Linked DNA regions of Homo sapiens: region 1 is linked to region 2. Evidence: fine-mapped expression QTL. A gene starts in region 2. The other region holds a variant in brackets. All regions are shown on one strand. Distances are between the middles of the regions.

Region 1 (5,206 bases), 75 kb before region 2:
TCAATCTCCTGGGCTTATGTGATCCTCCCACCTCGGCTTCCCAAGTAGCAAGGACTATAGCTGTGTGCCACCACTCCTGGCTAATTTTGTTTTGTTTTGTTTTGTTTTTTACTTTTTGTAGAGATACAGTCTCTTTATGTTGCCCAGTCTTGAACTCCTGGGTTCAAATAATCCTCCTGCCTTGGCCTCCCAAAGTGTTGGGATTACAGGCATGAGCCACCATGCCTAGCCAAGAGTTATTTATATATTCAAGATACTAATCTTTTGTCAGATACACGGTTTGCAAATATTTTCTCCCACTTTATAGCTTGTCTTTTCATCCTTTTAACAACATCTTTCAAAAGGCAAAATCTTTAATTTTAACGAATCCAATTTATCCATTTTTAAAAATGAATGATGCTTTTGGTGTCAAGTTTAAGAACTCTTTGCTTAGCCCTAGATCCTGAAGATTTTCTCCTAGTTTTTCTAAATGCTTCAGTTATATATTTGATATTTAAGTGTGTGACCCATGTTAATTTTTCCATAAAGCGTGAGACTTAGGTGGATGTTCCTTACTTTTTTTTTTTTTTTTTTTTTGAGACAGGGTCTCACTCTGTTGCCCAGGCTGGAGTGCAGTGGTCCGATTTAGGCTCAAACTGCAACCTCCGCCTCTCGGGTTCAAGCAATTCTCATGCCTCAGCCTCCCACATAGCTGGGATTACAGGCATGCACCACCACACATGGCTAATTTTTGTTTTTTTAGTAGAGACGGGGTTTTGCCATTTTGGCCAGGCTGGTCTTGAACTCCTAGCCTCAAGGGATCTACTGCCTCAGTCTCCCAAGGTGCTGGGATTACAGGCATGAGCCACCAAACCTGGCTGGTTGTTTGTTTCTTTTACCCATGGATGCTCAATTGTTCCAGTACCATTTGTTGAAAAGACTTATCTTTCCTCCTTGAATTGCTTTTGCACCATTGACAGAACTCAGCTGGCCATATTTGTGTGAGTCTACTTCTGGGTTCTCTATTCTGTGTGGTCTTGATCTGTGTGTCTACCTCTCTGCCAATATCCCACAGTCTTCACTATAGCTATATAATAAGTCTTGAAATTGGATAGACTGAGTCTCTCTACTTTCTTCTTTTTCAAGATTGGTTTAGCTATTCTAATTCCTTTGCCTTTCCATATACATTTTAAAATAATCTTGTGTATATGTATTTTGGGATTTTACTTACTTACTGGGATTTTGATAGAAATTACATTAAATATGTGTATAAATCTGGAGCGAATTGGCCAGATTGAGTCTTCCATCCATGGACATGTTGTGTCTCTTCTTTATTTATATGTTTGACATCCTTCATCAATGTTTTGTAGCTTTCAGCAAATAAGTCCTATACATGTTTTGTTAGGTTTACACTCAACCACTTTTTGTTGAGTGATTGCAAATGGTATTGTATTTTTATTTATGTGTCCACATGTTCATTGCTAGTATAGAGAGATACAACTGATTTTTGTAGGTGTATCTTATATCCTGTGACCTTGCTAAACTCATTTGTAAGTTCTAGGAGTTTTTGGTGCATTCCTTGGGATTTTCTGTGTAGACAATCATGTCATCTGCAAATAGGACAGTTTCATTTCTTCCTTTCTGATCTATACAGTTTTTCTTTTATTTTCTTTCCTTATTTCACCAACTAGAATTTCCAGCACTATGTTGAATAAACTTCTGAGAGTGGACATTTTTGCCTCGTTCCAGATCTTAGAGGAGAAAGCATTCCATCTGTTATCATTAAGTATAATAATACTAGCTGTGGGGTTTTTGTAGCTGTCCTTTATCAAATTGAGGAAGTTCCCCTCCATTCCTACTTTTTCTGGGAATTTTTATCATGAATCATTGTTGATTTTGTTTTCAAATGCTTTTTCTGTATCAATTGATATGATCATGTGATTTTTCCTCTCTAGACTATTAATATGGTAGATTACATTGATTTTCAAAAATTTAACCAGACTTCCATTCCTGGAATACACTCTGCTTAGTTATAAATTTTTTTTCTTTTTTGTTTTGAGACAGAGTTTCGCTCTTGTTGCCCAGGCTGGAGTACAATGGCGCGATCTCGGCTCACTGCAACCTCCACCTCCCAAGTTCAAGCGATTCTCCTGCCTCAGCCTCCCGAGTAGCTGGGATTACAGGCATGCGCCACCAAGCCTGGCTAATTTTGTATTTTTTTTTTTTTTTTGGTAGAGATGGGATTTCTCTGTGTTGGTCAGGCTGGTCTCGAGCTCCCAACCTCAGGTGATCCACCCACCTCGGCCTCCCAAAGTGCTGGGATTACAGGTGTGAGCCACTGCACCTAGCGAATTTATATATATACACTGCTGAATTCTTTATATTGCTCAAATCCCTTAGCTGTAATAGGACTATTAAAATTATTTCATATTGGGTGAGTTGTGATGGTTTGTGTTTTTCAAGGAATTGGTCCATTTGATCTAAGGTGTCAAATCTATGTGTGTTTCATTGTCCTTAGTATTCTTTTATTATCCTTTTGTTATCTGCAAGTTCTCTAGTGATAGTCCCTGTTTCATTTTTGATATTAGTGTCCTTTGTCTTCTCTCTTTTTTTCCTTGTTGGTCTTGCTAGAGGTGTATCAATTTCATTGATCTTTTCAAAGAATCAGCTTTTTGTTTCAGTGGTTTGCTTTATTATTATT[A/AT]TTTTTTTTACCAGCGTCATTGATTTCTGCTCTTAATATTATTTTCTTATTTCTGCTTGCTTTGGGCTTATTTTGCTCTTCTTTTTTAGGTTCTTGTGGTGAAAGTTTTGAAACATTTCGTGCTATAAATTTCCCTCTTGGCACTGCTGTAGCACAAATTTTGATATATTGTGCTTTCATTTCCATTTAGTTCAAGGCATTTTATAAAAAGTTTCTTTTGAAACTTCCTATTTGACCCATGGATTATTTAGAAGAGTGTTATCTTGTTGTCCTCTTACCTTTCTGTTATTGATTTCTAGTTTCATTCCACTGTGGTCAGAGAATACACTCAGTATGATTCTAATTCTTTTAATTTATTGAGGTTTGTCTTATGGCCCAGGATATAGTCTATTTTGGTATACATTTCATGGGTACTTGTAATGAATGTATATTCTTCTGTCATTGGGTGGAGTGTTCTATAAATATAGATTTGATCCTGTTTGTTGATGATGTTGCTGAGATCTATAGACTTGCTGATTTTTTTGTCTAGTGGTTCTATCAACCATTGTCAGATTTCTTAATTTTTGCCCATCTAGGAGGTGTAAAATGTTATCTTATTGTGATCTTAATTTGCATTTCCTTGAGTTCTAGTGAGATTGGTTATCAAATTATGTTTTTATCCCTAATTGTACTTTTAAAAATATATCATTGATACTTTACCAATGATATAGCTTATGAGGTTGGTGCAAAAGTAATTGCGGTTTTTTGCCATAAAAGTAATGGCAAAAGCCACAATTACTTTATACCAACCTAATAATTATTCAAATTTATTGCTTTATTTTTCCTTGTTTTTTCCTGTTTTTGTTTTGGTTTTGGTCTTGTTTTTACATATGTAGTGACCTCTGCCAATGGATCTGAATAGAGATGGGTAATTCTCCTTGTGTATCTCTACCTGGGACAGTGCCACAAACAATTAGACACACACTTAGGTCAAAACCCTTCAATTATTCCCCATATTGTGACAAATATAATCCAAAACTTTAGGCTGACTTTTAAGTCGTATATGGCACACTTTAAATTTACCTAATCCAGCTGTGTCAATGCCTCCCTATTTCCCAGCTTAGCTTGTTCCTCCCTCCACGATTTTGGCCATGTCATTTTCTTTGAATACAGTGCTGTCAACCAAAATCCTATTTACGCTTTAAATGTGGCTCAAATGCTCCCTCTATGGAGACTTTCTTGATCATTCCAACTGGAAGTGATTGCCTTCTTCCTCTTAACAACAGATTATAGAACGTCTGTCATATAATGACTGCATGGTTTGGTATCATAATGCACACAGCTGGGAAACCACTGGGTGGTCTCAGTGATTCAGAGCAGAAGTGTCTTATTGTTTCTTTACATCTATTTTATTGACTTGTAGGTGAAGTGCCTTTCCTTTATTAATAGTCTTTTTTTTTAGATGGAATCTCACTCTGTTGCCCAGGCTGGAGTGCAGTGGTGCGATCTCAGCTCACTGCAACCTCCGCCTTCCAGGTTCAAGTGATTCTCCTGCCTCAGCCTCCTGAGTAGCTGGGATTACAGGTGTGTACCACCACGCCCTGCTAGTTTTTGTATTTTTAGTAGAGACGGGGTTTCGCCATGTTGACCAGGCTGGTGTCGAACTTCTGATAACCTCAGGTGATCTGCCTGCCTCAGCCTCCCAAAGTGCTGGGATTACAGGCGTGAGCCACTGTGCCTGGCCTCTTTTATTAATATTCTAACTCACGTAGTGAACATTGTTAAAATTCCATCTCAAATGACTATATCCACCAAAAGTGGTGTATTGGATAAACTGCCAACTTGTTCAGCAGAAATATTACTAATATGATAGATTGGAGGAATAAATTATTCAGAATGCTGATAAACTCATGCTATGAAGTGATTTCCACATACATGTCAGTTAGATGTGGGAGATGAACTACCAGTAGCAAAACAACCGACAAAATGTATTTTACTTGTGTATTTATTTATTTTAGATCCAAGGGATATGTTTGCAGGTTTGGTACATGAGTAAATTATATGATGCTGAGGTTTGGGTTTCTAAGAATCCCATCCCCCAAGTAGTGAACATAGTACATGATAGGTAGTTTTTCAACCCATTTCCCCTCCCTCCCCTACTCCTTTTGGAATCCCCAGGGTTTATTGTTCCCATATTTGTGTCCAAGTGTACCCAATGTTCATCTCCCACTTATAAGTAAGAACATGATAGTTCATTTGATTTTCGGTTTCTGCATTAAATTGCTTAGGATAAAGGCCTCCAGTTGCATCCATGTTGCTGTAAAGGATGTGATTTCATTCTTTTTCATGGCTGTATAGTAATCCGTGGTGTATATGTACCACATTTTCTTTATCCAATCCACCATTAATGGGCACTTAGGTTGATTCCATGTCTTTGCTGTTGTGAATAGTGCTGTGATAAACATATGAATACAGGTATCTTTCTGATAGAATGATTTATTTTCCTTTGGGTATATTCCCAGTAATGGATTGCTGAGTTGAATGGTA
Region 2 (5,173 bases):
TCCTAGAATCAGACAAATTCTAAGATTATACAACAAAAGTCTTCTCCCAAAAAACTACTAAAAACGTCCTGAGATATATCCCTATTCTTGCCTTGCTTGCAAGGAGGGAATGACGTAAGAGTCACTATATACAAAACTACATACAGAGTCACAACCCAGGAAGTGTTTCTTCATTCTTCCACTGAACCTTTTTTTTTTGAGATGGAGTCTCGCTCTGTCACCCAGGCTGGAGTGCAGTGGCGAGATCTGGGCTCACTGCAAGCTCCGCCTCCCGGGTTCACGCCATTCTCCTGCCTCAGCCTCCCGAGTAGCTGGGACTACAGGTGCCTGCCACCATGGCCGGCTAATTTTTTGTATTATTATTATTATTGTTTTAGTAGAGACGGGGTTTCACCATGTTAGCCAGGATGGTCTCGATCTCCTGACCTCGTGATCCGCCCGCCTCGGCCTCCCAAAGTGCTGGGATTACAGGCGTGAGCCACCGCGCCCGACCCCTTTTGCCTGTTTTAGAGTGAAAACATTTTCTTTACAAGACTAAAATAGGTTAAAAAAAATTGTGTTGGTTGAAAACTTTACTAAGATCATACATTTGCCTCTATACCACATTTCCCAAGCCTTTCTTAAATATTTTTGCAAAGCCCTGAAGGTGGTAGTTTTTTGGGAACACAAGAAATAAAGGGATTGTGTGCTTCCTTATAACAGGCACCAATCTACTTATATTAGCGGAAAAAATTTAAAAGCTCATAATACCGCACATTTGTGAGTTATGAATGACCACAGTGCAAACAGTAAAAATAAAGGTTAATAGGCCGGGCGAGGTGGCTCACGCCTGTAATACCAGCACTTTGGGAGCCCAAGGCGGGCGGATCACGAGGTCAGGAGATCGAGACCATGCTGGCTAACACGGTGAAACCCTGTCTCTACTAAAAACACAAAAAAATTAGCCGGGCGTGGTGGCAGGCGCCTGGAGTCCCAGCTACTCAGGAGGCTGAGGCAGGAGAATGGCGTGAACCCAGGAGGCGGAGCTTGCAGTGAGCCGAGATCGCGCCACTGCACTCCAGCCTGGGCGACAGAGCGAGACTCTGTCTCAAAAAAAAAAAATAAAATAAAATAAATAAATAAATAAAACATGCAAAAGGAAAGATCAAATGCTGCTTGGGTGAATGGCTGACTTCCAGAATTACCCTTTCCAGGAGAATTCCTCATTGTCTGCGGCTGCATTGTCCAACAGGTGAGCCACTAGCCACTTTGTAGTTACTGAGCGCTTAAATGTAACTAGTTCGAAGATGTGCCGTAAATGCAGCACACCAGATTTGAAAAGCTTAGTACGAACAAAAGAATGTAAAATATCTCATTCATTTGATATTATTACATGTTAAAATACCTTGGATTTATTGGGTTAAACAAAATGTCTTATTTCCATTAACTTCACCTATTTCTTACTTTTAGTTTAAAACTACATAAAGATTAGCTTGCCTTGTATTTTCACTGGACAGCGCTGGTCTAAGTAATTAATAAGACCCAGCTGACATTAGCATCTATTTCTTTCTCCTCTAGCGTTTCTCGAACTGGTTCTACAGTAGCCTGGGGCACCGTTAATTCTGCCAAGGCCTGGCGTGGGATCTTTCTGAATCCTAAGATCCTGGGTGTTGGGTAAGAGGATGATGAGTAAAGAACTGGCTAACTGGTCCCGTACCCACTGCGCATCTCGCAGAGCGGGCTCCCGAATCTCCTCCGGCAGAGCGTCCCCGAGCTTTTGCACGAAGCGGCCGCACAGTTGTAGCATTTCGGTCACAGCCCGCTTCGAGGTGCAGCGCACCCGAAAGTCTTCTCGGGGAGTGGCGGAGACCAAGGCCTGGCTCTCTGTGCCAGCCGCGAGCTCCTTGTCCCATGGAGGGTCAAGGACCACCAACTCAGGAGACCCCGCCATTTTTCGTCGGAACTGTGGGCGGGGCACTCTGGGAGCGGAAAAGCGGGTTCACACTGGTGTAACCAGCATGCATCCGGCTGGAAACTCAGGACGCTGCAGCTGAAACGTTCCGGCTCCGGCTCTGCTGGCCGGTCTAAAGCGGCAGCCGCCGGGGCGCAATGCGAGCGGCTGGCGTAGGCTTGGTGGACTGTCACTGCCACCTCTCCGCCCCGGACTTTGACCGCGTATGTGAGGGCGATACGGGACCAGAGGGAGCAGGGAGGCCCCCGTCCTTTCCCCTCGTGTTATCTTTGCTCTCCTCCCTTGGGACGAAACCCCATATCCCCCGCCCAGACCCTTGTTTATGGCCATATGACCTTGCCCCTCATTTCCCTATTCCCTATTTAACCTCAGACATACCGATTTTTTTTTCCTGATTCAGTAGCGGTAAGCTATCTCCACAAGGCTTTTGTTTGCTCTTCTGAGTTCCTGGAATCGTTCCCTCACTCCCCTTGGCTGGCCTGTTTTTCCCCTCGGGGCTCTCACCTCCTGGCTGAGATGCCACTCTTTGTGGGAAGCGGTCCTCGAAACGCGTTCAAATCGGGGAGAGGTCGGGCGCGGGCTCACGCCCGTAATCCCAGCACTTTGGGAGGCCGAGGCGGGCGCTGCGCATCTCCTGTGTCCAGGAGATCGTGACCAGCCTGGGCAACATGGTGAAACCTCGTCCCTACAAAAAAAAAAAAAAAGCCGGTGATTGTGGCGTTTGCCTGTGGTCCCAGCTACTCGGGAGGCTGAGGTGGGAGAATCGCTGGAGCCCAGGAGGTGGAGGTTGCAGTGAGCTGACATCAAGCCACTGCACTCCAGCCTGGGTAACAGTGAGACCCTGTCTCAAAAAAAAAAAAAAAAAAAAATTCACAAATGGGGGAGAGAGGCAAACAAACAAACAAAAATACATGGCCGAGTGTGGTTGCTCACACTTGTAATCCTAGCACTATGAGAGGCCGAAGTGGGTGGATCGCTTGAGCCCAGGAGTTTGAGACCAGCCTGGGCAATGTGGTGAGACCCCGTCTCAATTAAAATAATAATACACACGTAAAATCAGTTACAAACTGTTTTACCCATTACGTGGGAAACTAGAGACTAATAATAGAGGATTAAGGGGGGTTTTATTTCAGGGGGAAATCCTCCCAGGAGCTGACACTTAAGGCTGAAAAGACAAGGAGCCACCCAAGCAAGGGGGTGAGTGTATGCTGGTTAGGGAAACAGATAGGTTGCAGGCCCCCAGACAAGCTAGAATTTGGCACATTTCAGTTGCCAAAAAGCTAAGTGGAGCCTGATGAGCTAGAAAGAGAAAGGCATGAAACAAAACTGGGGAGGTTTGCAGGGGATAGATGAGGTGGGTCAGTAAGGAATTTGGATTGCATTTGAAGCACAATGCAGATTCATTAAAGGGCTTTTTTAAAATTTATTTTCATTTTTTTATTTTTTTAGATTGAGTCTGGCTGTGTCCCTCAGGCTGAAATGCAATAGCATGATCTCAGGTCATTGCAACCTCCACCTCCTGGGCTCAAAAAATTCTCCTGTCTCAGCCTCCCAAGTAGCTGGGATCACAGGTGTGTCCCACCACGCCTGGCTAATTTTTTGTATTTTTAATAGAGACAGAGTTTTGCCATGTTGTCCAGGCTGGTCTTGAACTTCTGGCCTCAAGTGATCAACCCTCCTTGGCCTCCCAAAGTCCTGGGATTACACAAAAATGGATAGGCATGATGCTATCCATTTTAACACCATTTTGCTGCTGTATGGCAAATGGGTGGAGGAGAAGAGTGGAAGCTACAAGACTAGTTAGGAGGCTTTTGCAGTATATAGGCAAGAGATGTTGGCTGTTGGTACTATGATGATAGCAGGTGAGTTTGAGATGAATACATGGATTCAAGATACATTTTAGAGAGAGAATCCACAGTAAGTACTGAAGAATTGGATGTGGATAGCAAGGGAAAGGGAGGAGTCAAGGATGACTCAGATTATTAGCTTGTGCTATAGGGAAGATGGTGGTGCTGGTTTACTGAGATAAGGGAAGACCAAGGTCTGAGGTGGAGGTGGGGAGGTCAGCAGAAGGAATAGGTTTGTGGGGAGAAAATAAAGATTTATGTTTGGGGCATATTGGGAAACCTAATCCCATCCAAATGAAGATGTCATAATTTTTAAACATGAGTCATGGGCTCAGGAGAGAATTACAAGCTAAAGATAAAAATTGGGGGCCGGGCGCAGTGGCTCATGCCTGTAATCTCAGCACTTTGGGAGGCCGAGGTGGGCAGATCATAAGGTTAGGAGATCGAGACCATCCTGGCTAACATGGTGAAACCCTGTCGCTACTAAAAGTACAAAAAAATTAGCTGGGCATGGCAGCATGTGCCTGTAGTCCCAGCTACTTGGGAGGCTGAGGCAGGAGAATGGTGTGAACCCGGGAGGCGGAGCTTGCAGTGAGCCGAGATCGTGACACTGCACTCCAGCCTGGGTGACAGAGCGAGACTCCATCTCAAAAAAAAAAAAAAAAATTGGGGACTCAGGCTGGGTTCGATGGCTCACACCTGTAGTCCCAGCACTTTGGGAGGCCAAGGTGGGTGGGTCACCTGAGATCAGGAGTTAAAGACCAGCTTGGCCAACATGGTGAAACACCATCTCTACTAAAAATACAAAATTTAGCTGAGTGTGGTGGCGGTCACCTGTAATCCCAGCTACTCTGGAGGCTGAAGCAGGAGAATCACTTGAACCCGGGTGGCAGAGGTGGCAATGAGCCGAGATCGCACCATTGCACTACAGCTGGGAGACAAGAGTGAAACTTCATCTCAAAAAAAAGAAAAAAAATGGGGGCCTCAGCATAATGATGATAAAACCATGAGAGGAAGTGAAATCACTCAAGGCAAGTGCAGAGAGAGGAGCAGATGTTCTTGAAGTCTGAAAGAGGAAGGGGAGCTAGTCAAGGAGACTGACAAGTAGCCACCAATGAGAGAGTGGTATTGCAGAAGTGAAGGGTGGAAAGCATTTCAAGAAGGAAGGAGTAAGCAAGTGAGGGATTCCGAATGCTGCTGAGGAGTAGAGTAAGATGAGGACAGAGAAATACCCTGTATATTTGACAATAGAGGCTTCTGTTTTAGTGCTGGGAACAGTAGCCAGACTTTACTGATAGTAAGAGTAAACAGGAAGTGGGTCAGTGTAGGCTCTTTGTTTTCCACCACTCCATTAGTTGCTATCATTGTTATTTTT

Which allele goes with the higher level. Alleles are on the strand shown, and positions count from the first base shown. SD is a standard deviation of normalised expression in the study named.
In carriers of allele AT in region 1, the expression in NK cells of the gene that starts at base 1,944 in region 2 tends to be lower than with A alone (moderate effect, 0.45 SD a copy in Gilchrist 2021).

Evidence for each region. PIP is the estimated chance that this variant, and not a neighbour inherited with it, causes the effect. A credible set is the group of variants that fine-mapping cannot tell apart.
Region 1: its variant is the best candidate, but not a certain one, in a credible set for the expression of NSL1 in NK cells (Gilchrist 2021, PIP 0.60).

What each region holds. Positions count from the first base shown.
Region 1 is chr1:212,714,808-212,720,013 of GRCh38, forward strand. No RefSeq gene overlaps it. Among named protein-coding and RNA genes, the nearest start is that of BATF3, 18 kb to the left of the region's middle. The variant A/AT (reference allele first, on the strand shown) is at 2,681.
Region 2 is chr1:212,789,834-212,795,006 of GRCh38, forward strand. NSL1 (NSL1 component of MIS12 kinetochore complex) reads right to left here and starts at 1,944. Exons shown (of 6, transcript NM_015471.4): 1 at 1,697-1,944. The coding sequence starts at 1,930. It overlaps TATDN3 (TatD DNase domain containing 3), which reads left to right and starts at 2,061. Exons shown (of 10, transcript NM_001042552.3): 1 at 2,061-2,154. The coding sequence starts at 2,089. RefSeq lists enhancers at 617-1,395, 1,870-2,149, 4,284-4,784, 4,663-4,732, 5,073-5,122.